5 linked regions of the Homo sapiens genome follow. The protein of the gene in region 1 interacts with the protein of each later gene in a pairwise test. Each region holds a gene or a part of one and is shown in the gene's direction. Other genes may lie near its edges.

What was found.
Region 2: the proteins of UNC93A (region 1) and PSCA interact in a two-hybrid assay, tested with the Homo sapiens proteins (one large-scale study listed by BioGRID).
Region 3: the proteins of UNC93A (region 1) and TIMMDC1 interact in binary tests that used the Homo sapiens proteins (3 or more experiments, as listed by UniProt).
Region 4: the proteins of UNC93A (region 1) and FXYD6-FXYD2 interact in a two-hybrid assay, tested with the Homo sapiens proteins (one large-scale study listed by BioGRID).
Region 5: the proteins of UNC93A (region 1) and GJA8 interact in binary tests that used the Homo sapiens proteins (3 or more experiments, as listed by UniProt).

The regions. Positions count from the first base shown.
Region 1 is NC_000006.12:167,299,687-167,305,725, forward strand, and holds part of UNC93A (protein unc-93 homolog A), read left to right. Parts: intron 1-4,232; coding exon 4,233-4,447; intron 4,448-6,039.
Region 2 is NC_000008.11:142,677,359-142,684,027, forward strand, and holds PSCA (prostate stem cell antigen preproprotein), read left to right. Parts: upstream 1-3,136; 5' UTR 3,137-3,180; coding exon 3,181-3,205; intron 3,206-3,968; coding exon 3,969-4,076; intron 4,077-4,562; coding exon 4,563-4,774; 3' UTR 4,775-5,367; downstream 5,368-6,669. UniProt on the Homo sapiens protein: May be involved in the regulation of cell proliferation. Has a cell-proliferation inhibition activity in vitro. May act as a modulator of nicotinic acetylcholine receptors (nAChRs) activity.
Region 3 is NC_000003.12:119,503,789-119,509,827, forward strand, and holds part of TIMMDC1 (complex I assembly factor TIMMDC1, mitochondrial isoform 1 precursor), read left to right. Parts: intron 1-165; coding exon 166-233; intron 234-6,039.
Region 4 is NC_000011.10:117,869,806-117,875,844, reverse strand, and holds part of FXYD6-FXYD2 (FXYD6-FXYD2 read-through protein isoform 1 precursor), read left to right. Parts: intron 1-6,039.
Region 5 is NC_000001.11:147,899,602-147,906,399, forward strand, and holds the start of GJA8 (gap junction alpha-8 protein), read left to right. Parts: upstream 1-3,193; 5' UTR 3,194-3,260; intron 3,261-6,798.

The DNA.
Region 1 (6,039 bases):
CCTCCAAGGGCGGGTGGTCCCTAAGCCGAGTCTGGACAATGAGCAAGATTTGGCCAGGCAGGGAAGTGATGCTGAAGTCCCTGGAGGCGAGATGTCCAGGAAGAGCCCGCAGGGCTGGGGGCAAGGTGGAGGGGCAGAAATGGGGCACAAGACTAGCTGTGGCCCTTGATGTTGTGCCAAAGGGTCTGGACGAGTGCAGACTTGCCTTCTTGACAGACCCCATGCCAGCGTGACTTAGAGGTGCAGAGAGACAGCGGGCAGAGACCCACTGAGGACGGAGTGCTGAGTCCAGAGGAGGGAGCAGGTACGGGGAGGCAGAGATGGAGGGGCTGAGAGAGAGGCCAGCAGGGTCCGTGTGGGTTGGACATGGTGTGGGGAAGAGAAGACAGCCCTGGGGTTGACAGGAAGATGAGCTCAGGCCGGGAACACCTGGCTTGAGGACGCAGTGGGACTCTTGCATAGTGTCCAGTGGGCAGTCTGACGCCGTGCAGGGCTCAGGCCAGAGGCCAATGCAAGTGTGGACGTGGAGGCATCTTCCAACATGGTGACTGGAATCATGTCAGGGATGAGGCTCTTAGGGAGAAAAAGCAGAGGGAATTGTTACAGAGAAGGGAGTATAGCTGGACCCCTGGTTCAGCAACACTGAGGGCCAGGCAGACAACTGGAGCCTTGGAAGGAGACAGAAAACCAAACCAGGGTCTTGGAGGACACCAGGGTTGTAGAATCAGCTGGGGAGGGGGTTTGAGAGTGTTGAGTGTGGCAGGGCCCCTAGGAGGCTCAGGGGGGAGGCTGGACGAGGCTCTTAGCCAGTGAGAGGCTGTTGATGCCCATCAGGCGAGCAACCTGGGGAGGGTGCTCGTGTGCAAGGCCCAGACTGAGGGTTTCAGAAGTGAGTGGAAGGTGTGGACAGGGAGTCAGGAGGAGCCACGGTTTTCTCTGGTCTGCAAGTCTCTGCTGACTTGGAATTGTGGTCATGTTTTCCCAGCAGGCCCCAAGGTTCCCATCAACATGGTCCCAGGGACCAGCCAGGCCTGTGCTTCCCCAACACTTCCCCTCACCACCTCCTCTACATAACTAGGAGGCTGGGGGACTCGGGGACATTGAGCTGAGTCAAGACCATCAGGTCTCCTTCCAGCTCCACAAATTCCAGTTAGGCAGCCACCAACAAAGACTTCTCCTATCTATAAAAGAACAGAATTTTGGAGTGGGGGCTGCAGCCTTCCTCTGTGAAGGGCTGACAGCAAATATTCCTACATGTAAGTATCTTTCTGAGGATCATATGGTCCTTGTTGCAATTGTTCAACATTGTCTTTGTAATGGGAAAAAGCCATAGACAACATGTAAGCAAATGAGCATGCCTGCATGCCAATAAAACTTTATTTTCAAAAGCAGGCAGTGGGCAGGCTTTGGCCCGCAGGCCATAGTTTGCTGGCCCCTGCTCTAGAGGAACAGCACAGGCTTCTCTGTGGCTTCCAGGCCCTTCATTGCCAGCTGTCCTCCGCAGGTGGCTGTTGTCTGTGGAACCTCCCCTGCAGGGTTACCCCCAGTGTGCTCTCTGGCCACAGCCCCATCTCGGTTCACGGAATCCCGCAGCCTAAGGGAGTCCAAGTCTAGAAGTTATGTAGAGCAGAGATCACACACATGTAAATGAAGAAGTGGTCTTACTATTGTGATTGTAACAGTCCTGCAGGATCCTGTGTGTGTCCTTTTCTATAAAGCAAGACCATGTCTCCATAAAGAAAAACATAGGAAGAGAGAAAAATGGACCTAAAAGAACAAGAACACCCTCTCCCTGGGTAACTTTCCTGGGTTTCTGAGCATTGCATTCATAGTCAAGTTTCTTGCAAAGAGCCATTCTCTTTAGAATTTAGGACACAGCTGTGCAGCATCCCCCAATTCATGCCCCACAGAAGGCTCTGAGTCACATGACACCCGGACATACATAATTCTGAACAAAGGGGTGTGGCTTCTGTGTTCATAACCTGCCTCTCCCCTTCCCACAAGGCTTTCGGGGAGATTGTAGGTTGTGTCCTATTGGGCTGCTTGACACTGAAGTCCTGGCCCACAAGACGAGATTGTGAAGAAGGCGCTGCCTTCAGTGAGTGGAGGAAAAATGTGCCTTTTCCACATGGTCTACACACAGTCAGCTCAGGGGGTCGGCTTGGAAGGGGGCCCTGATCATTGTAAATACCCTATGGCCTCCTGTGCAGGCGTGACAACCTGCCAGACCACATGGTGGCCAGGACAACACAGAGGAAAATCAAGGGTGACCAAGAAACACCTGTGGCAGCAGGAGTCCTGCTTTCATACGAAATTTCACAAACTTCATGAGAATCTTGAGTTATGAAATAGGAAGGGGAATATGTTTAGCCAAGATGGAAAGTAGCCAGATAACGGAAAGTAAAGCCTAGAAATAAATCTGCATTTCTAGGTGGAACCACATTACCAATGGTGCTTTCTGAGACAGGTGCTAGGATTCTGCTGTTTCTGCACACAGCTTGGAAGAGAGCTGGCTTTGCAAACCTCCCAGTTTCAGGAACGCTCAGCTGCCGGGCACAGTGCTGCAGCAAGTCCACTGCATGGGTCACACGAGGACACTGATGCTGAGAGAGAAAGCACTAGATAAGGTTGGTCAGGCACAGTAAGATAGGATAATTCCCGTCGTCTTTAGAGGAGCAGGGGTCTAAGTTCTCGGAGGTAGAAATGAACCGTTCTGAAAGATTCTGGCCCAGAGAGAAGGGAAGGATCGCCACCACTCTTGAGTCATCTGTGGTGCCCCAAACACTGTGTATCATTACCACTGCCAGGTGGGAGGAAAACAGTGGAGATGCAATGGTATCACAGACGGCACTTACAATCATGAGGGGACGAAAGGGCTTCTAGTAAAGTGAGAAACGCCTAAATAAACATCAGTTCTCCATCGACAGAAATTGAGGTGGATCAAATAATAAAGTGGTGGGCAGATGGAGATTTAGTCATATTTTGGAATTATGAGAAAGTACAGGATGTTTCCTCATGGATGAAATGAATAGTTAAAATATTTTTTTGTATAGATAACCCATTTATATAGTTCAAAATGCAAATCCAGGAGTCCCCCTTGTCCCCATTTCATTTTGTGTGGCTTCAGTGACCTGAGGCTAGCTGCGGTCTGAGAACCTTAAGTGGAAAATTCCAGAAATAAATAATTCATAAGGTTTAAGTTGCGCTTGTTCTGAGTAGTGTGATGGAATCTCTTGCCGTCCTGCTCACCCCGCCCAGGCTGTGACCCTTCCCTCTGTCCAGCGTGTCCGCACCATAGATGCTCCCCGGGCCATAGTCTCTCAGTAGCCACCTCTGCTGTCAGAGTGAAAATCCGTGGTACATGTAGAGTCTGACACCACCCGTGGTTTCAGGCATCCGCTGGGGCCTTGGAATGAACCCCTTTGGGTGGGCAAGCACTGCACTGTAAAAGGGTGTGCGGTGGGGAGTCTCCCTCTCACTGCCGTCCTCAGACCCCGTTCTGCACCCATAGAAAGTCCATGCCTGCTTTATTCCTAGACATATTTAATGCACATATAAACAAGCACATCTTTATGTCCTTTCTTACTAAATTCAATTGGTAGCGCACTCTACACAGAGGTCTGCATCTTGCTTGTTTTTTCTCTTTTTACCATTTATGGTGGGGGATTTTCCCATCCGTGTATAAAGAGCTTCTTTTTTATTTTCTTCAAATGCACAACATTCTGTTGTAGTTCAGATACCCCTTAATATCTTTAACCAGTTCTTATTGGAGGACTTTTGCACAAAATTGTTTATTTGAAATAAACAAAAGTGTAGCAAATGGTACCTTGTGGGAATCATTATCCTAAAAAAAAAATCAATAAAAAGCTGTCTCCTGTTAGAAATTGCGTTGGGGATTAGAATGAGAAGCAGAGTCCAATGGTTAAGGACACTCAGAACTTCTGGGGTCGCTCCGGAATTTTTTGTATTTTATGCCGGTGAGGACAATACTGACCTATTGTGGCAGGTTTCATGTGAAAGCCGGTAAGTCTTGAGGTAATCAGAGAATCAGCACGATCAAGTGCAACTAGACACCTGAGATCCTTAAGCATGTTGTGTCTAATGTCGCCTGAAATCTGGATCTGAATTAGCCCTCCCTCGCGAGAGGAGGATGAGTGACTGAAACAAATCCTTGCCAGGCACCCTGCCTCTGGGCCCCCATGAAAGCTGAAGCCTTTGCTATGTCCTTTCAGGGAGTGGTGTCCTGGCTGTCCTGATGATAGCTGCGTTCCTCCAACCCATACGAGATGTTCAGCGGGAAAGTGAAGGAGAGAAGAAATCAGTACCTTTCTGGTCCACTTTACTGTCGACTTTCAAGCTATATAGAGATAAACGTCTGTGCCTCTTAATTCTGCTGCCGCTGTACAGTGGATTGCAGCAAGGATTCCTCTCCAGCGAATACACAAGGGTATGAACGAAAGTGAGGGCCGGTGGCTCAGGCCATGCGTGGCATCACTGCCTTGCCTGTGTCTGTACCTGCAGGACCGCAGAGTGTCTCAGGCCACCTGCCCAGGGCTGGGGCTGGAGGGAGCGGGGTCCTATGCTCCCAGTGCTACCATAGCTGAGTTTATGATTCAAGGTCTCAACCTCCAAGTAACTTCCAACTCACAGGAGCTTCCACTTCTTGTCTCAAGGGAGAACGTCTTGCTTGATCCGTGTCTTCCTGGGGAAGGAGCCGGAACAAGTGGATGGGCAGCTGCCGCTGACTCACCCCACAGACACTCATCGGTGTTACCCCTGCCTGGACCTCACCCTGCACTCTTACTTTAGAGTTTACATATAGGAAAAGCATTAAGTCCATGAATACCACCAAAATTTCTTATCTCTCTAGTTTTTTTTTTTCTTTCTTTTTTTCTTTTTTTGAGATGGAGTAACACTCTTGTTGCCCAGGCTGGAGTGCAATGGCGCCATCTCAGCTCACCGCAACCTCTGCCTCCCAGGTTCAAGCGATTCTCCTGCCTCAGCCTCCCAAGTAGCTGGGATTACAGGCGTGTGCCACCACGCCTGGGTAATTTTGTATTTTTAGTAGAGACAGGGTTTCTCCATGTTGGTCAGGCTGGTCTCAAACTCCCAACCTCAGGTGATCTGCCTGCCTCGGCCTCCCAAAGTGCTGGGATTACAGGCATGAGCCACTGTGCCTGGCACCTCTAGTTTTCAAATCATGCTTCACAATCTAAAAATCGATGTGGCTCTTGAAGCTTCTGCTCCATCCACTCCTGCCACCTTCTCCCCTCAAGGTGAGAGAGGCGGTGCCCCACCTCAGGGTGCATAAAGAAAGAAGCCACTCCTGGAGGCTGTTGAGAGCTGGGGGCCAGAGCTGGACCAGCAAGGGCCTGTGTCTGGCAGAGGCTCTCCTTCCGGAGGAAACTTCTCTGCTCCAGATCCCTCCCAGGCAAGGCTGCCAACTTAGCAAGATAAAAAGCACCTCAGCAGGTAGAATTTGAATTTCAGATAAACCACAAATGTCTCTCCAGGAGTATGCCCAGGCCATAGTGGGTGTCCTCAACTTTATCTGGCAGTGCTACTTTTAGGACAGCCTTGATGGAGAATCTTAGGAGCTTAAAAGAGTAGAAACAGGATAACAGAAAGGTCTACTTGGCGTTTTGGGGACAGCCCCTCCTGCTCCTCCACTGGACTTGTCCTTGTCCCCCCTGATGTGGCTGTGGCTGGTCTTCTCGTCTCAGTCCCTGTTCTGCGTGCCCGCCCTTGAGGTCGCCCGTGATGGGAGTGTGGTGCGGTGGGCATGAGACACATGTGCAGCCGGCTGCTGGGCTGCTCTGAGGCCCCGGAAGAGGTGTCAGGGCAATCTTTTCATTTTCTCTTTCTCTCTCTGTTTTTTTTTTAACTCTCTTTAGACCTAACAGGTAATGATTGGCCCCAGCAAGGGCAGGGTGTATTGGCTTCCATATAAAATAGTGCCCATTTCACAGCAAATAGTGAGAAATACATGAGAAAGAATTTTGTCTGCAGTTGTCCAAACTGCCTCCTTTTAGTTCTCCC
Region 2 (6,669 bases), on another chromosome or scaffold:
TAGAGGCCAGCAGCACCCCTGAGCTGGAATAAGCAGAGATGCCTCCAGACATCACCAAACATTCCCTGGCGGTGCAGAGTCACCCACGTGAGAACCACTGCCTTACAGCAATCACTGTGTATCAAATCAGATCAACAAACACTTACACACCTATAAATATTTGAGGACGGAAAGTTCCAGGCTGGCACCTTGAACACAGAGACAGATAAGAAAACGTCTTGTGCGGGAGTGGCCAGAGTCCGGGCGAGCTGGGGCGGGGGGCGGAGGGAGGATGGGACAGGGGCTGTCAGCCACACACGGAAGCAGTTCATGACTGTATGAGGCCCCTTGTCCTGAGCTTACAGGACATGGGCTGGAGGGCGTGTCCAGAGGGAAAGTTCTGGGTGGGCAGAGTGGGCAAGCAAGGAGTCTGGGGGAGGCTGCAGTCACCCTGCATGGCCTCCAGTAAGTTCCTGTCCCTCTTGGGCTCAGGCTCCTCACTTGCCAGAGAAGAGACAATTTCCATGGAAAAGAGCCCAACCCAGTGGGTTCCAGGGAGGCAGGCAGGAGAGACCTCAGAAGGACAGGGGCTGACCTGGAGCCCCGGGGGAAGCCCAAAGGCAGATTCCTGGTGCCACTGAGTCCCAGGGAGGTCGGGTCTTGCATCGTCCCTGCCCCCATCAGTAGTGTCACCTTGATCCCAGACTCAAGGTGAGACAGTGGGAAGCTGATGTCCCCTGAACACCCCAGAAACATCTACCAGCCTTCCTGGACGGTGCAGGCCTTCCTGGACGGTGCAGACCTGCTGGGAGAGGGTCCGATTCCCCGAGACTTTTCCTGACTGCAACATCCTCACCACCCCCTAAAATGTGCCAGAGCCTTTTCAGGGGCAAAATCGAGGAGAGGAGGTAACAATGAAGGCCGGACAACCATCAGCGGGGACGAGAGAGCGTCAGGGGAGAAGGGGCCGGTCTCCCTCCAGACACACACTCGGCAGCAGGCAGGGCCACGGACCACAGTGGACCTACCAGCTTCCGGCAGGAACAACAGCATACCCAAGAGGGTTGCCAGGCAGAGTTATCTAACTCAGGGTCCATGTACAAAGGCAGGGGTCAGGTTGAAGGAGACAGCAGCGGCCACAAGTCCCCCTCAAAGCCAGCCAGCAGCAGGAAGCCACCAGCCCCTCGGGCTTGCAGGGATGAGGGGGAGAGCACAGTGACCAGAGGCTGGCCAGAACCCGGGGGACAGGAGAAGCCTGGCTGACGGGACCTGGGCCTTCTCTAGAGGGCCATAGCCACTGCCACCACCACCCAGCCACTGGCAGGAGAGCCTGGGCCTGCTCTAGAGGGCCATAGCCACTGCCACCACCACCCAGCCACTGGCAGCAGAGCTTGGGCCTGCTCTAGAGGGTCCTAGCCACTGCTACCACCACCCAGCTGGCTGGCAGGAGAGCCTGGGCCTGCTCTAGAGGACCATAGCTACTGCCACCAACACTCAGCCGGCTGGCAGGAGAGCCTAGGCCTGTACTAGAGGACCATAGCTACTGCCACCAACACTTAGCCAGCTGGCATGAGAGCCTGGGCCTGCTCTAGAGGGCCATAGCCGCTGCCACCACCCACCGCCCAGCTGACTGGCATGAGAGCTTGGGCCTGCTCTAGAGGGCCATAGCCACTGCCACCACCGCCCAGCGGGCTGGGCCTGCTCTAGAGGGCCATAGCCACTGCCACCACCTCCCAGCTGACTGGCAGGAGAGCTGGCCTGAACTTGCCTCTTCCACTCTCTCATCTCCTGCCTGTGGGAGCTGGACCAGCCTCCCAGGACATGGAGCAGGACGGAGAGGGGATCTGGGGCAAACAGAGGCCATACAGCCCTGGGCCTAGCCGCTGCCTCCTGCTACTGCAGAGGCTGCTAAAAGCTGCACTTCCCCGACTCGTTTGCAGCTAAAGTTCCAAGCTGAGGGGGTCACTCAAGGTCCTGAGGGTAAAGCACCTAGCCCAGGGCTCAGCCCACACTGAATGCCCCATAAATGAAGGCCCGTCCAACAGGGTCTCCTCCCCAGGGAGGCTGTCCCCTGTGTCAACAAGAGCCAAACTCTGTAAAATATTTGAAGACATTTATTCTGAGCCAAATATGAGGGACCATGGCCTGTGACACAGCCCCCAGGAGACCCTGAGAACATGTGCCCAAGGTGGTCAGTGCACAGCTTGATGGTACCCATTTTAGGGAGACATGAGACATCAATCAAATATATTGAAGATATACATTGGTTTAGTCCAGAAAGGTGGGCAGCTGGAACTGGGGGCTTCCAGGTTATAGGTGGATTTAAACATCTTCTGGTTGGCAATCGCTTGCAAGAGTTATCAATAGAAAGGAATGTCTGGGTTATACGGGGTTGTGGAGACCAAGGCTTTATCATCAGATGAAGCCTCCAGGTAGCAGGCTTCCGAGACAATAGATGGTAAATGTTTCTCATCAGACTGAAGGCCTGTGTTGATGTTAACGCTGGCTGTTCCAGAGTTCTGAAGGGAGGAGGGATAATGAGGCTATCCAACCCTTTGCTGTCATGGCCTGAACCAGTTTTTCAGGTTAACTTCGGAAAGCCCTTGCCAAGAGGAGGGTTCCACTCAGATGGCTGGGGGGCCTTAGAATGTTACTTTTGGTTTATACCGGAACAGCCCCTGCCCCTGTCCTTTGCAGCACCTGCTAATGATCTGTCAGTGACGCTGTGACCAAGGCTCATCACCCTGCGGGCCGTGGGCCCCAGAGGGCGGCACAGCTTCTATAGGAGCACAGGGCCCAGGGAGGTGCCCTCATCCTTGGCTGGAAGGCCGAGGCCTGGAGGAGTCTGGAGAAAGGGTCTCCCTTGTCTGGCCTTGCACTGTGAGGTGGGGGAGGTGGGAGAGGCATAATCTGGGTCTTGAGGACGTTTCAGCCCTCAGCCCGGGGTGGCTGAGATATGGCCCTGGGTAGGCTCTGTCCTCCAGAGGTGGAAAGAAGGACAAAGGGAGAGGGAGGTGCAGGTCGCTCAGGGAGGAGACTCGGACCTGCCCAGCCCCGGGGCCCTCACTGGCTCCAGGAAACCCGCTGGTGTTGACTGTGGGCAGTCCAGCCTCTCCCCATTTGAGGCCATATAAAGTCACCTGAGGCCCTCTCCACCACAGCCCACCAGTGACCACGAAGGCTGTGCTGCTTGCCCTGTTGATGGCAGGCTTGGCCCTGCAGCCAGGTGAGGCCTTGGCTGGCCCCCAGCAGGGAAGGGAGCAGGGGTGAGCCGGGGAGGCCAGAGGGATACCTGCAGGGCACACGGAGAGGAGGGGAAGGAAGGAGGAAGGGAGAGGAAGGGGGTGAGGCTCTTGCCCTAGCCTCCGCTCCTCCAGGGAAGCTCTTGGCACGACCAGGCAGCGACCTGTTCCCTGCCGTCCCCTGTGACCGGGGCTTGCAGGGGCAGCACGGAGTCACTCTCCTTCACCACCGTGGGGCAGGGCCTGGCTCCTAGGGGGCAGGTAGACAGACTGACGGATGGATGGGCAGAGATGCTGATGAGGAGCTGGGAGACATGGGACAGGAAGCCTCAGGCTAAGAAGTGGTTTTTGGGGCACAAGGGGGAGGTGCTGGGGGTGTCCTGCGAGGACCCGGGGGTCTACATCCGGCCCAGTCCCAGCACTGCAGCTTCCAAGGGTCCCAGGGAGCTGCTCTGCTTGAGGTGGGACCCTCCCGACCCAGGGTCCCGGGTTCAGTCACCCCCACAGCCGCAGCTTCCTCTTCTGAAACACACGGTCACAAAAGCAGCCACCGAGGGACTAAACAGGGCAACATTTCGGAGGCACTGAGCAGGGGGCCGTGAAGATGGGGAGGAGACATTGAGGGTGACAAGAGGGCGCCGAGGACTTCCTCAGGCCACCGCCATGGAGGCCCACCTGCCTGGGAGCCCCCATTCCTGGGGAGTGCTATGGGGCAGCCTCTGAGGCCCCTCCCACTCCACCCCACAGGCACTGCCCTGCTGTGCTACTCCTGCAAAGCCCAGGTGAGCAACGAGGACTGCCTGCAGGTGGAGAACTGCACCCAGCTGGGGGAGCAGTGCTGGACCGCGCGCATCCGTGAGTGGGGGGACGACAGCCGCCAGGCCTAGGTCTCTGCCACTGAACTATTAATCTTTCTGGCCATCTGTCCGCATCTGTGTGCTGTTTTCCTTCCACCTGTCCCCGACCCGTCCCGCACCTGCACCCCCAACAATCACCCAGCATCTGTCCCTCCAGCCATCCTCCTCCATCTGCCACTCCTCCACTCATCTGTCCCTCCCCATCCTCCATCTTCCACTCCTCCACCCATCTGTCCCTCCCCATCCCTGAGCTCACTTACTCACTCACCCCATTTCTGACGCTCAGCGGGTGGTCCATCTGCCTCGGACATCTGGATAGGGCTGAGACCAGGGCCGAGACCAGGCCCTCGCACTGCTTGCAATCCTGAGGCCAGCCCAGGGGGACTCTAGAGCATTAGGCAGGGTGGGACAGGAGGAGGCCTGGGGCAGGTCAGGCAGGTGAGCACACAGGGCAGCCCCATCCCCGGATCCCGCTGCTCCCCAGGCGCAGTTGGCCTCCTGACCGTCATCAGCAAAGGCTGCAGCTTGAACTGCGTGGATGACTCACAGGACTACTACGTGGGCAAGAAGAACATCACGTGCTGTGACACCGACTTGTGCAACGCCAGCGGGGCCCATGCCCTGCAGCCGGCTGCTGCCATCCTTGCGCTGCTCCCTGCACTCGGCCTGCTGCTCTGGGGACCCGGCCAGCTCTAGGCTCTGGGGGGCCCCGCTGCAGCCCACACTGGGTGTGGTGCCCCAGGCCTCTGTGCCACTCCTCACACACCCGGCCCAGTGGGAGCCTGTCCTGGTTCCTGAGGCACATCCTAACGCAAGTCTGACCATGTATGTCTGCGCCCCTGTCCCCCACCCTGACCCTCCCATGGCCCTCTCCAGGACTCCCACCCGGCAGATCGGCTCTATTGACACAGATCCGCCTGCAGATGGCCCCTCCAACCCTCTCTGCTGCTGTTTCCATGGCCCAGCATTCTCCACCCTTAACCCTGTGCTCAGGCACCTCTTCCCCCAGGAAGCCTTCCCTGCCCACCCCATCTATGACTTGAGCCAGGTCTGGTCCGTGGTGTCCCCCGCACCCAGCAGGGGACAGGCACTCAGGAGGGCCCGGTAAAGGCTGAGATGAAGTGGACTGAGTAGAACTGGAGGACAGGAGTCGACGTGAGTTCCTGGGAGTCTCCAGAGATGGGGCCTGGAGGCCTGGAGGAAGGGGCCAGGCCTCACATTCGTGGGGCTCCCTGAATGGCAGCCTCAGCACAGCGTAGGCCCTTAATAAACACCTGTTGGATAAGCCAGAGAGACCCTCTGTCCTTGCACACCCCAGGCGGGCACCGGATCCAGGGCTGTGTCTGGACCAGGGCCCTGGTCACATGGGCTGCAGCCTCCGCCCTAACAGGAGCAAAGCTTGGCCCCTGAAAGGAGGACGTCCCTGCAGAGGGTGGGAGGGCAGTTCCCAGGACTTGCACTTGCTGTGCTGCCTGGAGCATGTGGCCAGACCTCTCTGAGCCTTGCGACTCATCTATGACCCCTCCTTGCTGGGAGGATGGACCCAGAAAGTTCACAGGAAGGAGAGCGTTCCGGGGGGAGGGACTGCTACCATTCAAGCTCCTACCCATCCCCTTGGCCTGATTTGAGCACCCCCATTTTTCAAAATTTGTTTTAGAGCTGCACACCCACCATACAGCATTCAAACACTACAGCAGGGTCCCCGGTGACAGGTGGCCTCCCCCAACCCTGAACCCCAGCGCCTTCCCTCTCTGGGGTGCCCATTACACCTCCAGAGGCTTCTTTCTGGGAGAATCTGTGCCCCGTGAGCATCCCCAGGCCCCTGAGTGGGAGGACACCATCCACACTTGCCTTCTGCGCTCAGGGGAAGCCTTTTGCACACAGCCTGCTTCCCGCCCTAGGGCTAGGGGTGCAGCCTGTGACCTGGGTGGGGACCTGCTCAGGGTGAGGCCTCCAAGGGTGTTAGGGGTGGGGCTCGGGGGGCGGTTTCAGAGAAGAGGAGACAGAGGCTCAGGAAAGGGAACGGGTCTGTTGCCCACATCCCATACCGAGCCAGGATTGGAACCCTGGCCTGGAGCTCTGAGGGTGGGTCATGGAGCAGACAGTGGGCAGAGCTGTGCTGGAAAGAGCCAGGCCTCCCGTCTGACATGTGACTTCACGGGGAGACCTCCCTCCTGAACACTGGGGGCCCAGGGTGGCATTGTCAGCAGGGTGCAGCTCCCCAGGCCAGCATCTGAGTGACCCTGGGCACTGGTCACACCCTCCCCGCCTCGCCTACACCCAGCCCAGCCTGCCCGGCTTCCATGGTGAGCTCTGGGCTTCCATGGTGAGCTCTGCCCAACACCTACCCACCCTCCCAGGCCCAAGGCACACTCAGACCTGCCTTGGCCCAGGGCCTGAGTCCAGAGTTGAGGGCTAGGCCATTGTTTTCTGGGAGGGCCCTGCAGACCTGGGAGCCCGCACAGAACTCTCCACCCCTCAGGGCTCAGGTGCAGGAACTGGGGCCTGAGGCTCAGGCAGGTGCTTCTGGCCACACTGTGTCTCCTGAAGCTGCCGGCCCGGGCTTGCTGACCTGCTCTGGGGAGCATCAA
Region 3 (6,039 bases), on another chromosome or scaffold:
TGGTTTTACAACCATGTCTGGAACACATTGAAGGGGCCTAGGCTAGGAACAGGGATTGATATAGTAGGCTTTTCTAAATCTATTAAGTCAGTGAAAATAACACTCAAGAAGGTAAATGGGATATGCTTTAAATCTTATATTTTCCTTCTCCTCCCTTTTTACCAGCACAGTGAACACTAGTCTGAATGTATACCGAAATAAAGATGCCTTAAGCCATTTTGTAATTGCAGGAGGTAAGACATTTTTGTTTATATTTTTCAGTCTTCTCAAATACAGTTTAGAAAATGTGTAAGGACTTATACATCAGAACTACTGAATTCTTTGGTTGGCTTCCCATTACATCTCATCAACATTGATGCAAAATGTATTTATGGACAGTGTTGTGCTTCACCCTTGATATACTCAATGGGCAAAACAGCAAGGCCCTTGCTTTCTTTGAATTTTAATGTCTAATATGTATGTGATAATACAGGTTGTTGTGATAGAAAGTAACAATTCGGTGGAACAATGGGATCTCATATGGACAGGGTAGTCAAAGAAGGCCTTTCTGAGGAAGTGACATTTGAGCTGATACCAAAGAATAGGAAGGAGCAAGACTTGCAAGGAAGGGTGTCCTAAATAGAGGGAACATCAAGGGGGAAGGCTCTAAGGCAAAACATTTCCTTAAAAGCAGGATAATAACGTGGTGAGTGAGGGAAAGAGTAGCTTGAGATGAGATTGGTGAGGACTATAGGAATGGACTAGATTTTTTATGGTAAGAACTTGGATTTTATTTTAAAGCTCTCTGCCTCTAGTATATATATGTATATTTTCTTTTTAATGAGCATTAAAAATAGAAGGTACAATGGTGATTACCAGAGACTGGATATGGGGTTGGAAAAGATGTTGGTCAAAGGATACAAAATTTCATTTAGACAGGAGGAATAAGTTCAAGAGATCTATTTAAAACATGGTAACTATGGTTACTAACAGTGTATTGTATACTTCAAAATTGCTTTTAAAAAGTAGATTTTGGCCAAGCGGTGGCTCACACCTGTAATCCCAGCACTTTGGGAGGCCAAGGCAGGTGGATCATCAGAGGTGATTTGAGACCAGCCTGGCTAACATGGTGAAACCCCGTCTCTACTAAAAATACAAAAATTAGCTGGGTGTGGTGGCAGGTGCCTGTAATCCCAGCTACTTGGGAGGCTGAGGCAGGAGAATCACTTGAACCCAGGAGGCAGAGGTTGCAGTGAGCTGAGTTCACGCCATTGCACTCCAACCTGGGCAACAAGAGTGAAACTCTTGTCTCAAAAAAAAAAAAAAAAAGTAGATTTTAAGTGTTCTCACCACAAAAAATAGTATGTGAAGTAACGTGTAGGTTAATTAGCTTAATTTAGCCATTCCCCAATATATACATACTGCAAAACATGTTATACACCATATGTGTACAATTTTTACTTGTCAGATTTAAAAAATAATTTTAAAATGAGCATTCGTTTCAGAAAGGTAAGTTAACTGCTATATACACTCAATCACTAACTTGTGTACATTCTTTTATGTACAACACACATATGTATTCTGAACATAAGTTTGTTTTTGTTTTTTTTTTTGAGATGGAGTTTTGCTCTTGTTGCCCAGGCTGGAGTACAATGGCGCGATCTCAGCTCACCACAACCTCCGCCTCCCAGGTTCAAGGGATTCTCTCCTGCCTCAGCCTCCCTAGTAGCTGGGATTACAGGCATGCGCCACCATTCCCAGCTAATTTTTTGTATTTTTAGCAGAGAAGGGGTTTCTCCATGTTGGTCAGGCTGGTCTCGAACTCCCGACCTCAGGTGATCCGCCCATCTCGGCCTCTCAGAGTGCTGGGATTACAGGCGTAAGCTACCACGCCCGGCCTGAACATAACAGTTTTTAAATGTTTTTTTGGGAATAAGCTTACAAAAGATTGCAAAATAAAAATAATACAAAGGGCAGTCTCTATCCTTCACATACAGAGACTTAGCCATTGTTAACAATTCATGCTGAGAATTTATCCGAAATTAAGTCAGACAACTTGCTTTATCTTCTTGCTACTGCATGCACTCTCCCTCTTCTCTGTGTATATGTGTACACACATGGGAAAACACACAATTTGAACTTTTTTTTTTAACTTTTAACTTCAGGGGTACATGTACAGGATGTGTAAGTTTGTTACTTAGGTAAACGCGTGTCATGGAGATTTGCTATACAGATTCTTTCATCACCCAAGTATTAAGCCTAGTATCTTAGTTGTTTTTCCTGATCCTCAAACAACATTTTAATGAAAACTTTTTAAAATACAAAACTAGAAATAGGCATTAATAGCGTTAGAGCAGCCAGATTGTTTCATTTTTAAATTTGCAAGCATTTTTACATGGGTCTTGTCTACCCACTTTTACTTCCTTACTTGCTCCTGCTGTTACGTTCTCTGTCAATTGTTAAATGTGAAAACCAGGCCAGGCACAGTGGCTCACGCCTGTAACCAGCACTTTGGGAGGCCAAGGTGGGCAGATCGCTTGAGTATAGGAGTTTGAGAACAGCCTGGGCAACAAACATGGCAAGACCGTGTGTGTGCAAAAAGTTATCTGGGCATGGTGATTCATGCCTGTAGGCTCAGCTACTCAGGAGGCTGAGGTGGGAGGATGGCATGAGCCCAGGAGGTCGAGGCTACAGTGAGGTGTGATCATGCCACCTCATTCCAGCCTGGGCGACAGAGCGAGACCCTGTCTCAAAAAAAAAAAAAAAACTAGAAACCAAGGAATGATATGGTTCTGCTCTTTTTTCTCTTTCCACTTCTTGTCCTATTAATTATACTCATTAAATATATATGGATTCTTTCACTTCTTTTTTCCCACTGCTACTATCTTATCGTCCCTGTTTCTAATCTTGATGTGCTCTACCTGTAACCTAGTTACATTTTTGAAATATGAATATGATTTTGCCACTTTTCTGTTTGAAATTCTTCTATAGTTTCCTGTCACTTTAATGTCAATTCTTGATCTGGCTTCCATGCGCCACTCTTTTGCTTTCACTTTACAATCTCCTCGGATTTCCCAACATGTTCTTTCCTTTTGTGAATCAGTCCCTCTTCTTGAATGCACTTTCCCACTACCACAATTAATTTTGTTCGGCTCCTACTTAACCTTACCTTTCAAAGTCCAGATCATTTGTCAGCCTCAGCTTCCCTAGAGAGTTCTCCCTAGCCATTTTCTCCCTAGCCATGTTTAGTTCTATTTAGCTGTCTTTCCCTTGTGTTCACATACTTCACTGTTTTTTTCTTTATCTTTGATTTTCTGCAGTTTGAAAATGATATGCCCAGGTGTAATTTTGAGGAACATTTACTGTGCTTGGTGTTTTCTGAACTTTCTGGATCTGTGGTTTGTTGTCTGACTTAATTTAGGATAAATTCTCAGTGATTGTTTCAAAGATTTCTTTAGCTTTCTCTTCTCCTTCTGGTGTTCTAGTACACTTATACCTTTTGTAATTGTTTCACAGTTCTTGGATATTTTATTCTGTGTTTGTTTGTTTGTTTGTTTTTGGTGGAGGAGGTTCCCATCTTTTTTCTCTTTGTCTTTCGGTTTGGGAAGTGTCTGTTGATAATGTCTTCAAGCTCAGGGATTCTTTCCTCAGCTGTGTCCAGTCTACTATTCTTCAGTTCTGTTACAGTGGGTTTTTAAATTTGTTTTATCGCTAGCATTTCTTTTTGATTCTCTCTTCGAATTTCCATCTCTCTGCTTATATTGCCCATCTATTCTTGCATGCTATCTACTTTATCCATTAGAGCCCTTAGTGTATTAGTCATAGTTGCTTTAATCTCTTCATATGGTAAGTCCAGTATCCCCACCATATCTGAGTCTGGTTTTGGTGCTTACTCTCTTAGTTTTACTTGGTCTCTTCAAACTGCTTTTGCCTTTTAGGATGCCTTGTAATTTTTTTTCTTGATAGCTGGACATGATGTACCTGGGTAAAAAAGGAATTATGGTAAATAGGTCTTTAGTAATTTGGTATTAAGATGTGGGAGAGGGAAAGTGTTTTGCAGTCCTATGATTAGGTTCTTAGTCTTTTAGTGAGCCTGTGCTTCTGAACTGTTAACTTCACAAGTGCTTTTCAGTTTTTTTCCTCTCCTTTGGTGGGACAGGATACTACAGTGGGTTGGAATGGGTATTTCCTTTCTCCCACATGGGAGGCTAGAGCAGTTGCATTTGGATATTCCCCAGGCTGGTTAATCTCTGACAAAACCCCAATAGTTTGGGCTGTGCAAAACCATTTATCTTGAGGGCAGGCCTTAGTGAGAATAACGGAATGTTCTGGCATATTTCAAAATGGTTACTTTTCTTCCCCCTTGCCAGAAGCCTGAGGGGATTTTTCTCAGATCTTTACTGGGAGAACTTGGTAGAGCTCCTGGAGTGTGGGGACCCTCTATGATTGGCTCCCCTACAGTTTTTAGGTCTTAGACTTTTCTACACTGAACTTCCAGCAATTTATCATTTATAGTCAAGGTTTCCTACTCTGGTACTGGTTTCCATGGAGGCTTCTGCTCGTGGGTTTCTGCTCTAATAAGGTGTGATTCTCTGTATTTATCTGTCTGTCTCTCCTATTTTGAGGGCAGCAGTTTACCCATGATCTCACTTCTTTGGTGGATCTAAGAAGAGTTGTCAGTTTTTCCATTTGTTTAGCTTTTTACTTGTTGTTAGGAATAAGTGATAAACTCTAAACTTCTCACATGCCATACCAGAAACTGGAAGTCTCCCTTTCCTTTTTGCCCCACATCTTGACAAGCTGATAAGAAAGCCCAAGTGCTACCTTGGTTGACACCAGCAGGAAGTTTCAACCATGCAAGCTCAGGCCTACATGAGGGAGCTCTTGCTCTAGCCCCACCTTCTAAAACCACAAGCCAGTCAGTCAGCCTTCAGGTTCTCAAGTCATTTTGGGACATGCTTGGGATCTTGCCTTGCTCTCCCTGGAAAGCCTTATTATATGTGTAATAAACCTTTTGGTATCCTCTTAGTACCTCTTGGTACTTTGGCATTTCAATATCTGATTCAAATTTTGGGTGGGGGAGTTTATTGTCTCTGGAGGGTAACCACAACATCTTGCAAGTAGAAAATCCAAATGAATTAAGAAAACCATTGGAAGGCCAGGTGTGGTGGCTTATGCCTGTAATCCCAGCGATTTGGGAGGCTGAGGCAGGCAGATCTCTTGAGGTTGGGAGTTTGAGACCAGCCTGGCCAACATGGTGAAACCTCGCCTCCACTAAAAATACGAAAATTAGCTGGGCATGGTGGTGCACATCTGTAATCCCGGCTACTTGGGAGGCTGAGGCAGGAAAATGGCGTGAACCTGGGAGGCAGAGCTTGCAGTGAGCTGAGATCGCGCCACTGCACTCCAGCCTGGGCTACAGAGTGAGACTCCATCTCAAAAAAAAAAGTTAAGTATAATTTACTGTGCAACTCAGCAATTCCATGTCTTAGAATCTGCCCAAGATAAATGAAAACATGTCCACGCAAAGACTTATATATAAATTTTTATAGTGGTGTTATTCTCGACAGCCTCAAACTGAACCCATAAATTCATCAACTAGTGAATGGATAAATAAAATATGATATGTCCATTCACTTGAATATTTTCATCAGTAAAAAACTGATACATGCTGCGACATGAATAAAACTCAAAAACATTAAGTGAAAAAAGCTAGACACAAAAGACTTCATATTGTATAATTCTATTCATATGAAATGTCCAGAATAAGCAGATCTGTAGAGTTAGAAAGTACATTAGTGGATTGAGGTGAGATTGGGAACCAGGAGTAACCACAAATGGGCGTGGGGGATCTTTTTGTAATGATGGAATCATTTAAAAATTGGATTTTGGTGATGATTATATAGCAATGCAACTAAATTTTTTTTTTTTTTTTTGAGACGGAATCTTGCTCTGTCGCTCAGGCTGGAGTGCAGTGGTGCGATCTCGGCTCGCTGCAACCTCCACCTTCCGGGTTCAAGGGATTCTCCTGCCTCAGCCTCCTGAGTAGCTGGGACTACA
Region 4 (6,039 bases), on another chromosome or scaffold:
CTCTTACAAGTGGTGGCTGGTAGAGGAGGCACCCGAGGGTGGGAGCTGGGAGCAGCCTCGCTGGAAACATGGGTCTGCCGCGTCACCTGCTGCAAGCCTGCACGCTCGCGGGACCGTGGCTACTGGAGGCTTCTCCCCACCAGTGTGCTCTCTGCCACTACTTCCTTTGTCTCTGTGGCTTCGTGCTGTCTGGCTGGGCTAAGATTTCCAGCTTTGAAGATGGATCAGTGGGCATCTCAGGCCCTCTCTGAAAGGAGCCCCCTTTGGGGATCCAGCCACCCTCATATTATGGATGTGTATGTCTACGTCCGCAACTTAGCCTTTTGCACGTGACTTGCCTGGTCGTTGCCATGGAAACTCCTCCATTTCTCAGCCTCCCTCTTTCTCCTGCCCATTCCTCACCTCCATATCTCCTCCCCTCCCCCCAGTATGGTTGCCTAGATACTGGTTATCCCTGGCTAGGAGACCTAGATATCTGGCTCCTACACCCAATTGCAGTGGCCCCTTACTCACACCACCCACTTCACACACACTGCACATCACCAACACCACAAACACATACAGACATATACCACACTACGCAATCAACACACCCTCACACTCACACCACACATACATATACATCATACCTATACACACATACACACCAAACACACCGCATATATACCGCACCACCACACACCAGCTACAATGCTACACTGACACCCTACATGCGCACTGTGCATGCACACACACACACACAGTACATCTAAATAAGTCTCAGGCTGGGCTGAGGCAGGGGAGAGAGAGGGCAGTTTCCTTCCTTATCCAGCCACCTCCCTAGGGGTGTGGAGGGGAAGAGATGGAGGCTCAGGAAGCCCAGAAGGAAAACCCTAACATCTCCCTGGGAACCCTGCAGAGGAAGGTGGAGGGAAAGGCACTGCCAGATTCCCTCAAAAGAGGAGCCCCTTCCCTAAACCTGGAAGGGAAGGTTGGATAAAGAGTGGGCGCAGCCCTTTTCCCTCCTCCTCAAAGCCCCAGTCCGGAGCTCCAGGTGTTAACGAGAGCCATTCCCAGGTGCTGGGCTCCAGAAGCTGGGCACTGACCAGAATTTCAATCTCTCCACTGCCGCTGCTCTTTTCCCTGACCCAGAGAAAGCCTGAGGCTCTGGGAGTCATCCTCACCAGCAGAGGATCAGGCCAGCTCTGGGACCATCGGAGGCTCTGAGCCCTAACAAAGGAGAGAAGGAAAAGTGGTTACTGTCCCAGGAAAGCCAAGGAGGCCAGGCCAGGGAGGCAGGAAGGGGAGGGAAACCAGAAAGAGGGAAGGAGAGGGGCCACAGGAGTCAAGAAAGCGAAAGTTAGGGCTACCCGCCGTTGCCTGGGGTTCAGGCCACCCTCTCTTCCTGGCACGTTTTCCTGCTTCCCCCCTGGCTCCTCCAAACAGATCTGTGCATCTAGGAGAGGAAGCGGGTGTGCAAAGGGCTCTAGGCTTGCCAGGGTTCTCCCAAGACGTGTGGCTTCTATGGTTGACAGACGGTAGGCGCCTGGGGGAAGCGTTTCCTTCCTGGCTTCCATCGGATCTTCAGACTGACCTGAGGACCGATTTCATTCAATCATTCAAAGAACTGTTTTAAGTGTCTACTGTGTATTAATTGCTGGGGACATGAAGGTGAGGAGGGAGACACAATCCCTGACATCGGAATCCTAGGTTTCTCAGAGCCGGAAGAGGCCTTGAGGGAGCATCCAGTGGGAACACAGTGGGGGAAACTGAGGCTCAGCAGTCACGTGGCCAGTAGTCGCTGAGGCCTTCTAACTCCTCGGCCAGGATTTTGGCCTTCACACTGCCTGTCCTGCAACCCTTGCTTTCTTTTCTCAGTCACCATCAGAGATGGTGGGTTGATGGAAACCTATGGAGGGAGAGCCTTTGGTCGGCTGGTGACTGGGACGCCCTTCCAAAGTGAGGGTCCCTTAGTGGGCGGGTACAACCGAGGAGCCTGCTTCACTATGTTTTCTTGGAAGGCGAGGCTGGAAGCTGTGGCAAGGAGATGGGGGAGAAAGGGCAGTTTCCTAGACCCTGGAAATTTCCCGACAGCCTCGGGGGAGTCCACCCACCGAAATCTCCCCTAAATAAGAGCACCTCCTCTCTTCCTCCCAACCTTGTTGGACTTAGTCGGCCGCCATCTGGATGGCAGACTGTGCCAGGCAGCCCCCCAATATTCACCTTCGAACAAATCACCTTCTGAGCACCCTAAGGGAAGCAAACCAGTCAAGAAAGGCACAGCCCCAAGGAGGCAGGGAGCCTGCTGTGGAAAGGCCGGGTTCTAGCCCCAGCTCTCCCCCTGAGCTTCCGTGCTACCGAAAGGCAAATGCGTTCATTGCACAAATATCCCTTTGGATGCAAACTGGGCTTCTGGTGAAATCCAGAAATGGCTTGGACTGCTCTTCAGCAACTGAAAGCCTTTCGGATTTTAGACCTTTGTTTCCGCATCTGTCAATAGTGGGGTTTAGACTCATGATTTCCAAGGCATGTCTTCCTCTAAATTTGTGTGGATTATACAATCTTGAAAGAGATCCCTTTTCTCTCCAGGTACCAAATAGTACTCATTATTTCATAATACAGGGCTGCAGCTGAGCTGAGCTGAGCAGGAAGGGGCTGGGCTCTGGTTACCCTGGAGAAAGTTTCCTTTTCACCCAGTGTGGCAGAAGGTGCCCTAGAAGCTGAAACCAAGTTTTTTTCTTTAGGGCTGAGGGAGCCACCTCCTCCTGGATGCTGTGGTCTACCTGGCCTTTTCTACCAGGCTGCACACTGGAGGCGGGCGGCGGTTGGGGGGGGTTCTTTAAAGAGTTGTTCTCTGGAAGAGACAACTGGAGAGGACTGGGCTGTCATTTTGGAGGTCCATGAAATCTTCTGCAGGGAGAACCCCTGGCCAGCTGGAGAGTTGCAACGAGAGGGGCCGGTCGGGAACACAGTGCTCTGACACCGTCCCTGATGAGAGGCAGGACATCTCCGGCCGAAACAAAAGCATGGAACCAATTTGGCAGCATCATCTCTGCTCCAGAATCCGGGGAGGGAGAGGTCCCGACCTGGGAAGGGATGAAGCCAGCTTGTAGGCTGCGCAGGAACATGTTTGTTACAAAGATGTGGGAGGGAGCACACAGCCTGGGAAAGGGGCTGGGCCCCCACGGACCAGGCTGGGGCCATGGGAATGGGGCTGCCCCAGCTCAGAATATCTGATGTGGGCAGAGAGGGCCAAGGATGAAGGGGTGTAGTTAGAATAACAGTGACCCCCACGCAGCTGGAGGACAAAGCCAGGCCCACACTGAGAGACCAGAGGCTAAGGTTTCAAACTCCCTCGTTCATCCTTTTAATAAATGTTCCCCTCATATGTCAGGCAGGCCCTGTGGGCTTCTGAGGTTTCTCCTTTGCTGGAGCCCTCCTGCTCAGGTAGATCAATGGGCTTGTCCTGTTCCTTCCTCTCCCCTACTGTCCACCTCATGTCCACATCCTACCAGGAGGCCCTGCGACTTTCTTCCTCCATAGGAAGAGCCCCTCCATGCAATCACGGGTGCACTTACACTCTCACACACGTTCCCTTCCTCACACATATATAATCTCCCACACCCGACAGGGAGGCAGTGGCTCACACATTCTCACACGCCCTGTCACCTCTCCCGAAGAGCTGCAGTCTCTCAGACCATGGTGATGGCCTGTGAACGTCCACCCTCTCAGCCCATTCCATTTTACCCACTGATGTTACAGCTCAGGTCCAGGTTTGCCACTCCTCTGCTCAAAAACCTCCCCAGGCTCACCAGTGCCTATTAATAAGCACAGGTACATGGTGTAGGCACTCCAGGCTCAGCGTGACCTGGCTGCAGCCACCTCTGCAGGCACCTTCTCCAGATGGTCATCCGAAGCCTGGTACTGTCTCACCCTCTGCCTGAGCTCAAGCCGTTGCTGGAATGTGCCGAGTAGAGGGTGGCAGTCTTTGTAGACACACAAACTTGGATTCTAAACTGCATTCTGATGCTTCCTGGATTTCTTCACTTTGCTAAACCTCAGTTTCCTTACCTGTCAAATGAGTGTGAGGACAGTATGAGGCGAGCTGTGTAAAGGGCTCAGCATGCTGCCTAGCATGGAGTAAACACTCAGGAGATATCAGCTGCTGTAATAATGATAGTAATGACACATTATTAGGATTATTAGAATGGCATTATTATTGTTATATCATCCTTCGTGGCTCCTCCCAAGTGTTTATTCTTTCAAGTAATTATTCCATATTCCCAATAAACAGGCATTAAAATTCCCAATAAACATACTCATATACCGTGAATGTCCTGTCAGTTCTTCCTTGAGAGCACACACCTGCATTTTAGCTGCAGAGGGACACGCCCCGCCTCCCACCCCGCCCGCTCCACTGCACCGCCTCTCAATGGCAGGTCTGTTCTCCCCACGGTGCCTGGCACAGTGTCAGACACGTGGAGAAAGCCCAGTGAACAGCGTGTGTGCTGTGACACGCATGGGGAAGAGTCCTCATCACCAGGAGGTGTAGACACCTAGTCGCCCTTCCCGGCTGTCTCCCATACGCCGGTGCACACCACGCGTTCCCAAGATGCACATCCCTTTATTACCGTGCGTCACCTCAGTCTCCCACTTGCTTTGGTAGAGTCTAGAAACTAAGAATTTGACCCCATCTGAGGTCTGAGAGATGCTTAAAAGCTGAAGTCAAAGGAGAGAGGCTGATTCCTCACAGCATTTTGGTAGTTGGGATTTGACAGAGACACAGAGATTAGAAATGAGGCAATGGAGGAAGGAGGATACCGAGAAAGTTTTAAATGCCTGAAAAATTCCCTACAGATCCTTTGGTTGTTCTGAGCTTAGAATGGATTTGATGTAAAGGGATAATGATGCTGAAGCGTCCTTTCATTCACACATCAACATTTATTGAGCAGCTGCTGTGCTCAGTGCCAGGGATCCAGAGATGGCCAGAGTGTGCCTGTGCTCCCAGGGAGCTATGGTGTGATGGGGGCATACACTGGTGACAGCCCTACATGGGAAGGGGTGTAGGCCTTGGCTCTGTGGGTATGAGGATGCATTGAGGGGAGGGAGGGGATAATGTGTTTCCTGAAACAGAGACAGAGTCAGGTCAACAGCCCCCTCCTCTAAAGGCAGGGCACATTTCTGGGTATCCAGGCCCGTGGGTCAGGGTTCATCTTCATGCCACTTCTACCCCTAAAAGGGAGACAATATGAAATTGTGCAAAGTGCCCTGTAGGCTGAAACATGCAGGCCAGAGCTGTCCTTCTAAAGAGGTAGGCAGAGAGAGCAAAGGGGGCTGCCTGGTGCTGTGGCCTGGCTGTGGGCAGGGTGGCGTGGGCCTGGCTTCTGGGTTCCTGGCCCTGGCAGCTGCTCTGGGTTTCTGTGTCTGCTGCTGGGACTGCTGTCTGTCCTGTCTTGAATGGGCCTTTGTCAGCAGGTGTGTGGGGGAGGTGATCCCATCCTGGCCTGACTCCATCACGCCCTGCTGGGGCGTGCAGCCTGCTGGGGCCCCAGCCTGTGGCTTCTGTGCAATACCACTCACCATTCAGACTCTCTGGAGCCAGACCGAGATCTCCTGGGGAACCAGAGGGGCCTCAGCCCCTGTGCTGGCAGGCAGGAGGCCTGAATCCCACTCTGACTCCCTCTGGGCAAGGCGCGGCATTGGCCTGTGCCTGAGTTGGCCTCGCAGTACTGTTCTGTGTTTCTGCTTCTGAGGGCTGTTGTGAGAAGTCCATGGGTGATGGCTGGGATGCCACAGTGTCACGGTTGTCAGTGATGGTGAGGTGACAGCAAGACCTGGGAAGGGGGCTGGGGCCCCACGGACCAGGCTGGGGCCCAGAGAATGGGGCTGCCCCAGTTCAGAATATCTGATGTGGGCAGAGAGGGCCAAGGATGAGGGGATGTGATTGGAATGACAGTGACCCGCATGCAGCTGGAGGACAAAGCCAGGCCGGCACGCACTGAAAGACCAGAGGCTAAGATCTCTCCACCATGCCTCCGCTTATGGTCCAGCTTGGGATCT
Region 5 (6,798 bases), on another chromosome or scaffold:
CAGGCAGATTGCTTGAGCTCAGGAGCTCGAGACCAGCCTGGGCAATACGGCAAAACCCCATCTCTACAAAAAATACAAAAATTAGCTGGGTGTGGTGGCCTGCGCCTGTAGTACCAGCTACTTGGGGGGCTGAGGTGGGAGGATTGCTTGAGCCCAGAGGTGGAGGTTGCAGTGTGCCAATATCAGGCCACTGCACTCCAGCCTGGGTGACAAAGCAAGACCTTGTCTCAAAATAGAAAAGAAAGAAAAAGAGAGAGAGAGAAAGAAAGGAAAGAAAGAAAGGAAGAGAGAGAGAAAGAAAGAGAAAGAAAGAAAGAAAGAAAGAGAAAGAAAGAAAGAAAGAAAGAAAGAAAGAAAGAAAGAAAGAAAGAAAGAAAGAAAGAAAGGAAAAACGAACCCTGGTAGGAGAATGCCACCATTAGATTATCCAAAATGTCAATAATCTAATAATCTATAAGATTACAGAATATAAAATTGGAACTTACATTTGAATGTGGTTATGTCTCCTATTCTAGACATTTACTTATTTATCTCAAATAATGCAATACAGACACCCTGGGAAGACATCCCTCTGAAAGACCTGAGAAAGTGATTCTTGGTAGGAATAGACAAGTCATCTCTCAATGGTAGCTAAGGTGAGCCTCTTTCCCGATCTCTTTCAAAACTTTCCCCAAGATATACACGACTGAGTGTTTATATTTTCAAGGACTTCCCAGCTACAAACAGAAGAACCAATAACAAAGATAACTTAATCAATTGGGTACTACGAGTAGAGGAGTATCTTCTTTGTTAACAGCGTAAGAAAACAAAGAAAGTGCTAAATTGAAAAGCTAGATTTGTCTAAATCCGAGAGACTATAACTGGTTCAGAGCCTTGTTGACAGCCCCGTTTTTCTGGATTCAAATGCATCCTCTACTACCATCTCTCACAAAATGATGATGAGCGATGACACCACCCACTACATTAGCCAAGTTGGACTGGGAAGCCTTGGATAGGGAGAACTTCATTTTAAAGAGAAGCTTTGTAGATTCTTTTCTCTTCATAGGACTATATCAGGGAGAGCGCAAGCTTCAGGAATCAGCATGTACTGAATATTCCCAAAGAAAGAATGATTGGATTTTTTCCCCTCATCCTCTGACTTCTTACCTTATTGATATTGCAGGGATCAGCCTTGACCATCTATTTTTAACTGAAGGATTTGCTATAGGGCATTGTCCCAGTCAGTGTGGGCCCTCAAACTTGGGAGTTCAAAAGAAATCAGACATCTAAAGTAAACAAGGTTTTGGGCTAGTGACCATTTTATTTAAAATGGAATTGGGGACTCACACAACATTGGTACCATCCTCCTTCAAACTGCCCCCATCAAAATGCAATATGTCCATGACACCAGAAAGGACAGGAAGGGGGGGTGGGGTGGTGAAGCCAGTGCTTAGATTTTTTTTGTCTAGTTTGCCCTCCAAGTTGTCTTCAATTTAGTAATCATACATTGCAGATTTCATAAAACAATCTAAGTTTCAACTATTTTTGCTCCATTGTTTTCACGAATAAACTTGTAGGATAAAATGCCCCTATTTTTGGTTTGGAAATGTAGTCAAAATAACCATTTTTTATACTACCAATAGTCAGTCCCAGATGATGGGACGGGAGTGGGCCTCAGAGAGCATATGTCCATGCCCTCCAAGCATCATTCCTCATTAAGCCACATTAGAATTTAATCCAAGAGCCTCCTGGTGAGCAAAACCATCATATCCCCATTTAACAGATGAAGGCACTAAAGTCTAAAAATGTTAGCTGACATTGATTGAACTTCCGCTACTCAAAAGTATATGTAATTATAAGTGAAACGTGGTGAGAAAGGCTATTACTTTGACAAATGGCACCAGAATTCTTTGGAGTGTTAAGGCTCCTTTCAAAGAGGGAGACCACCCTGCTGAAGGTTTGTTTGTGTTTCTTTTTTATTGTTTTGATCTTTTTAGAAAGCTCTTTCCTTTTATGTTTAGTTGACACATAATAATTGTACGTATTTGTGATACACAGTGATATTTCAATACATGTATACAATGTGTAATGATCAAATCAGGATAATTAGCATATTCAGCATCTCAAACATTTATCATTTCTTTCTGTTGGGAACAATCAAAATCCTCTCCTCTAGCTTTTTGAGACTATACAATAAAATAGTTAACGGCCAGGCATGGTCGCTCATGCTTGTAATCCCAGCATTTGGGGAGGCCAAGGCGGGCAGATCGCCTGAGGTCAGGAGTCTGAGGCCAGCCTGGCCAACATGGTGAAACCCCGTCTCTACTAAAAATAGAAAAAAAAAAATTAGCTGGGCGTGGTTGTGGGTGTCTGTTATCCCAGCTACTCAGGAGGCTGAGGCAGGAGAATAACTTGAACCTGAGAGGCAGAGGTTGCAGTGAGCTAAGATCGTGACATTGCACTCCAGCCTGGGTGGCAGAGCGAGACTCTGTCTCACACACACACAAAAATATAAAAATTAAAATAATTAATTAATTAATGTTAACCATATTCACCCTACAGCACTGCAGACCACCAGAACCCATTCCCCCTATCTAGCTGTGCTTTTGTATCTATTAGCAACATGCTCCCCATCCTTCCTTCCGCCACTACACTTCCCAGCCTCTAATATCCACAATTCTGCTGAAGGCTTTGAGAGACAAGAGCAAACCACCAATAAAAAATGAAATATGGTCCTTTGGAAAGGACCAACCACTCTTGGTGTGACTCAGGGCAGAGGGATTCACACAACTGACCACTTACTGTCCCTACATCATTAAGATTCTCCCAGCTGATGATAAGGCCTTGGGAAAATGCCCCTAGGCTCATGCGCTCTGGAGAGACGCCAAAGGTTTACTGATGTACAGGCCCAGTCTGCTGCTAAAAGAAACTTTGGGAGGCACAGAAGCCCCAGCTAAGCTTTCACACATCAGCTTTCCCCATCCTCCTCCCCTCAGTGCCCAACACAGCTCTCCCATTCTCTCACTCCCATTGTTTCCCAAACATCCCTCCCTTCATAAAAGCTGTCTGGCTGGGAGCTTAAAATATTGCTGGACAGTAAAACCTACCCATCAGGGCCAATCCAGTCATATCTGCTCAGTCGTGCAGCACAGTAGGGGCGGGGTAGAGAAGTGGGAGGTGGGCTTTTAGGCAGCAAAGGAAAGAGACGAAAGTTGCCATTTTGCTGCTGAGCGCCAAGAGAGAAAGAGCACATATTTCTCCGTGGGACACTCCTTGTATTGGCAAGTTTTCCTTGGGTGATATTAGTTTGTAACCTTCCCCCCAATTGTTCTTTCTCAGCCTAATCTAAGGGCCATATATAGGCTTCTCCAAAAGGAAAAAGGTTGCCAATAAGATTCAGTCTTGGGCTGGGATGGCTAGACTTACACTCCAACTCTGAAAACCCTCTTCAAGTTGACCTAAGAACTGGCAGAGGTTTGGAAGGGAGAGGAATGCTGGAATAATCAGCAGGATGGGGAAACAGAGATGTCCAAACTCAAACTACAATTTGACTTCTTAAGCTCTTTTCATGTCTACAGGAATCCACAGGGACCTAAACCAAGTATTTGATATTTATGAAAAAGTTTTGTGCCCTTTTCACTCAAATTCTACAATAGAAATAATAGTCATAATTACTGAATGCTGTGGGGGTAGCGGAGGCTTCGTGCTCAGCATTTTCCATGTTGGAGCATTTAATGGAGCACAGGAAGGGATCTGGCTAAGGACCATAAAATTCCTCCTAGGAGCAGGTTCTGTTGTCTATCTATGAGAACTGCTGGCTAGTGGCTGTTCTAGAAACTAGAAAAGAGGCACTTTCCACCTGGTTACCAACCAGAGTGGTAAGTGGCCATTGAACGCTTTGGATAACTTATTAATGGATGTATATGTGTTATTCTGCCTCTTCAAAACCAGAGGAGGGCTATGCTGTAATGGGCTTAGATCTAGAAGACCAGGGCTCACAGCCTAGCTCTGCCCTCACTAGCTAAGCCCCCATCTTGGAGACTCATTTCACCTCCCAGCCTGTCTTTTTGTCTGGTAATGGGGATTGATAATGCCAAGTTCACTGGTTCTCAGACATCCATCTGGGGATCTGTCAGTTCTAGCTCAAGATGAAGGTTTCCACAACCTGTGACCAAAATGTGACAATGATAAAGTTAACAATGTAGTAAATGTTTCACCAAGTTAAGTGTGTTCAATTTAAAGGCTTGTCTTTTATTCTGAAGTTATGTCCTCTCCAGTTTTGTGGTGTTAAAATCCCCTTTTATGAAATGATGATGAAAATAGACTGTAGTTGTAGTTAGTAATTTAATAACTCTTTTTTTTTTTTTTTGAGACAGAGTCTCGCTGTGTTGCCCAGGCTGGAGTGCAGTGGTGTGATCTCAGCTCACTGCAGCCTCCACCTCCTGGGCTCAAGCAATTCTCCTGCCCCAGCCTCCCAAGTAGCTGGGATTACAGGTGCCCCACCACCGTGCCCAGCTAATTTTTGTATTTTTAGTAGAGATAGGGTTTCACCCTGTTGGCCAGGCTGATCTTGAACTCCTGACCTCAAGTGATCCTCCCACCTCGGCCTCCCATAGTGCTGGGATTACAGGCATGAGTCACCACGCCCAGCCAATAACTCTTATTTTTATGTCCTTGTTTGGCAAAATAAGGAGTTGGTATCCTTATGTTGGTCACACTAGTTTGTTATTATTATACTAGTCTGTGAAATCTAAGTCTGAGAACCACTGGCCTAGTTCACAGCTTGTTATGAGGACTGAAATAAGATACGTGAAAATGTATCACTTAGATCAAGGATACCCAAACATAAGGTGTTATTTTAATCATTACCTCTAGCCATCATTTTCTGGTGGGATGTTCCTGGCCATATATGGACACCCTGGGGTTGGAGGCTTGAACTCTATCCATTTATTTTCCATCTGTAATAGGTCTGTTCACTAAATTTTCACAAGCAAAATAAAACAGAGAATTATCTCTGAGAAAGAGAAGAGAAATAGTCTTCCTTTGGTTCAGATTTCTCCCTGCTCCCACAGAACGCTTTGCTTCTCTGATCTGACTTCCTTTAAATTTTCACTGTTAGAAGTCAGGAAACCAATACATTTCCCTTCGCAGCTCTAAAGTGTCTCTCCTTAACAGCACAGTAGGCCTGTTTCAACATCATGGGGTTGGAAAGATTGTGTCCTAAATTACAGTTTCTCTCCTTCAGTTATCACAAGAAACTGTAACTAGACATTTAAAAAAAAATACAATCTTAGCATGGCGGCTTAGAGTATAGAAAGACATGGGCTTGTTTGGCTTTGGTTTCAAAATTACTAATGAGTGGTCAGGAACGACTTCTTGTGTCATGAACATGTATCATGACACTCTTGTCAAGAATTGTTGGCCTTCCAGTTTATATATTTGATCTCATACAAAATAAGCAGTTTTGTGTCTCAGAGCAGCTGGTTGGGGATCAATTTACTATCCTTTTTGTTATTTACCATTTTTTACAAGTTCTTAATTTTTCTGCTGTTAGCTGTAGCAAGAGGACTGAAGTTCCTTGGTCTCTAGTATTCATATTACAGGAATTTGGGGATTGAGAATTTCAGATTTCACAAGGATTACTATTAGAACCATGCACTGCTGTCTATGGAGCTCCCACTCTGTGAAGGGCTTTGTTCTGTGTTGTGATGGTTCACAAAAGATGAGGCCAAAATGGTTCCTGCCCTCCAAAACCTTTTGATACTAAAGGGGGGAAAACAAGATTGGTTAACATACAGGACTGAGAGCATGTGCTCATCACACACATTCATGTGGGTATGTGAGTGAAATACACTGTCAAAAATGAACTGATATATCAATGAGGGTAAGTATTAGCAAGATAGTTAAGATTCAGTAAGATATTAGTAAGATAGTAAGATATTAGCTAAATCTTATAGAAGTACAGTTATTCAAATTGCTGTTTTAACATAAATTTTAGAATGAACTATTTGATAAGAAATGAACTTTTTCCTGGCTCTGCCACCAGTGAGCTTTATGCTTGGGCTGCTTACCTGATTGTGATGTTTCCCACCTATTTTCCAAAAGGCAATGGGAATGGCTACCACTCTTACCAGGGCAATTACTAGACTTAACTATAGTCTGAAGAGTTAAAAATAGATACATGTGGCTGGGATTGAGTTGCTGGTTCCGATTCCGAGCTGCTGGGTCCTTCCCCCTCTCCATTACCCATTTCTCCAAGGAACTCTTCCCAATGCCAGACCCATGACTGGGGATGCCACAGCTGCTGTCACTTTTTCAGGAGAAGAGAAGCTGCTGCAGGATGCCCTGCCTGATTGGGAGCTTATGAGGCCTCAAGAGGAGGAGCACTCTCTGCTCTCCCACAAGAAGCGAACAGCTATTGTGCCTGCCCTGACAGCACAGGCTGGACATTGCAGATGCCTGCAATTAGTATCCTGCCACCAGGTTCTGTCTGGCCAGACTCCAAATCACAGGTTGGAAATAGGCTTTTGTGTTTAACAAATATCACTGTGATTAAAAAACAATAGGCATATCCCTTTAGCCCCATAGGTTCCTAGGCCTATAGCATGGGGCATGGCTAGAAGAAGCCCAGAGCAAGATCCTCTAACATGGGCTCTTGCCCTGGTCTGAGGGCAGTGATGAGTAAACTTATAACTCTAGAGATGTTCAAGCTGCAGGAACAACTGTTCTCCATTGAGGTGGAAGTTTTGCTCATCATTCTTTATAGGTTACAGGTTTGCACTGGATGAATGACCCAGTTGCAGCCAGCCCCTTGTCAGC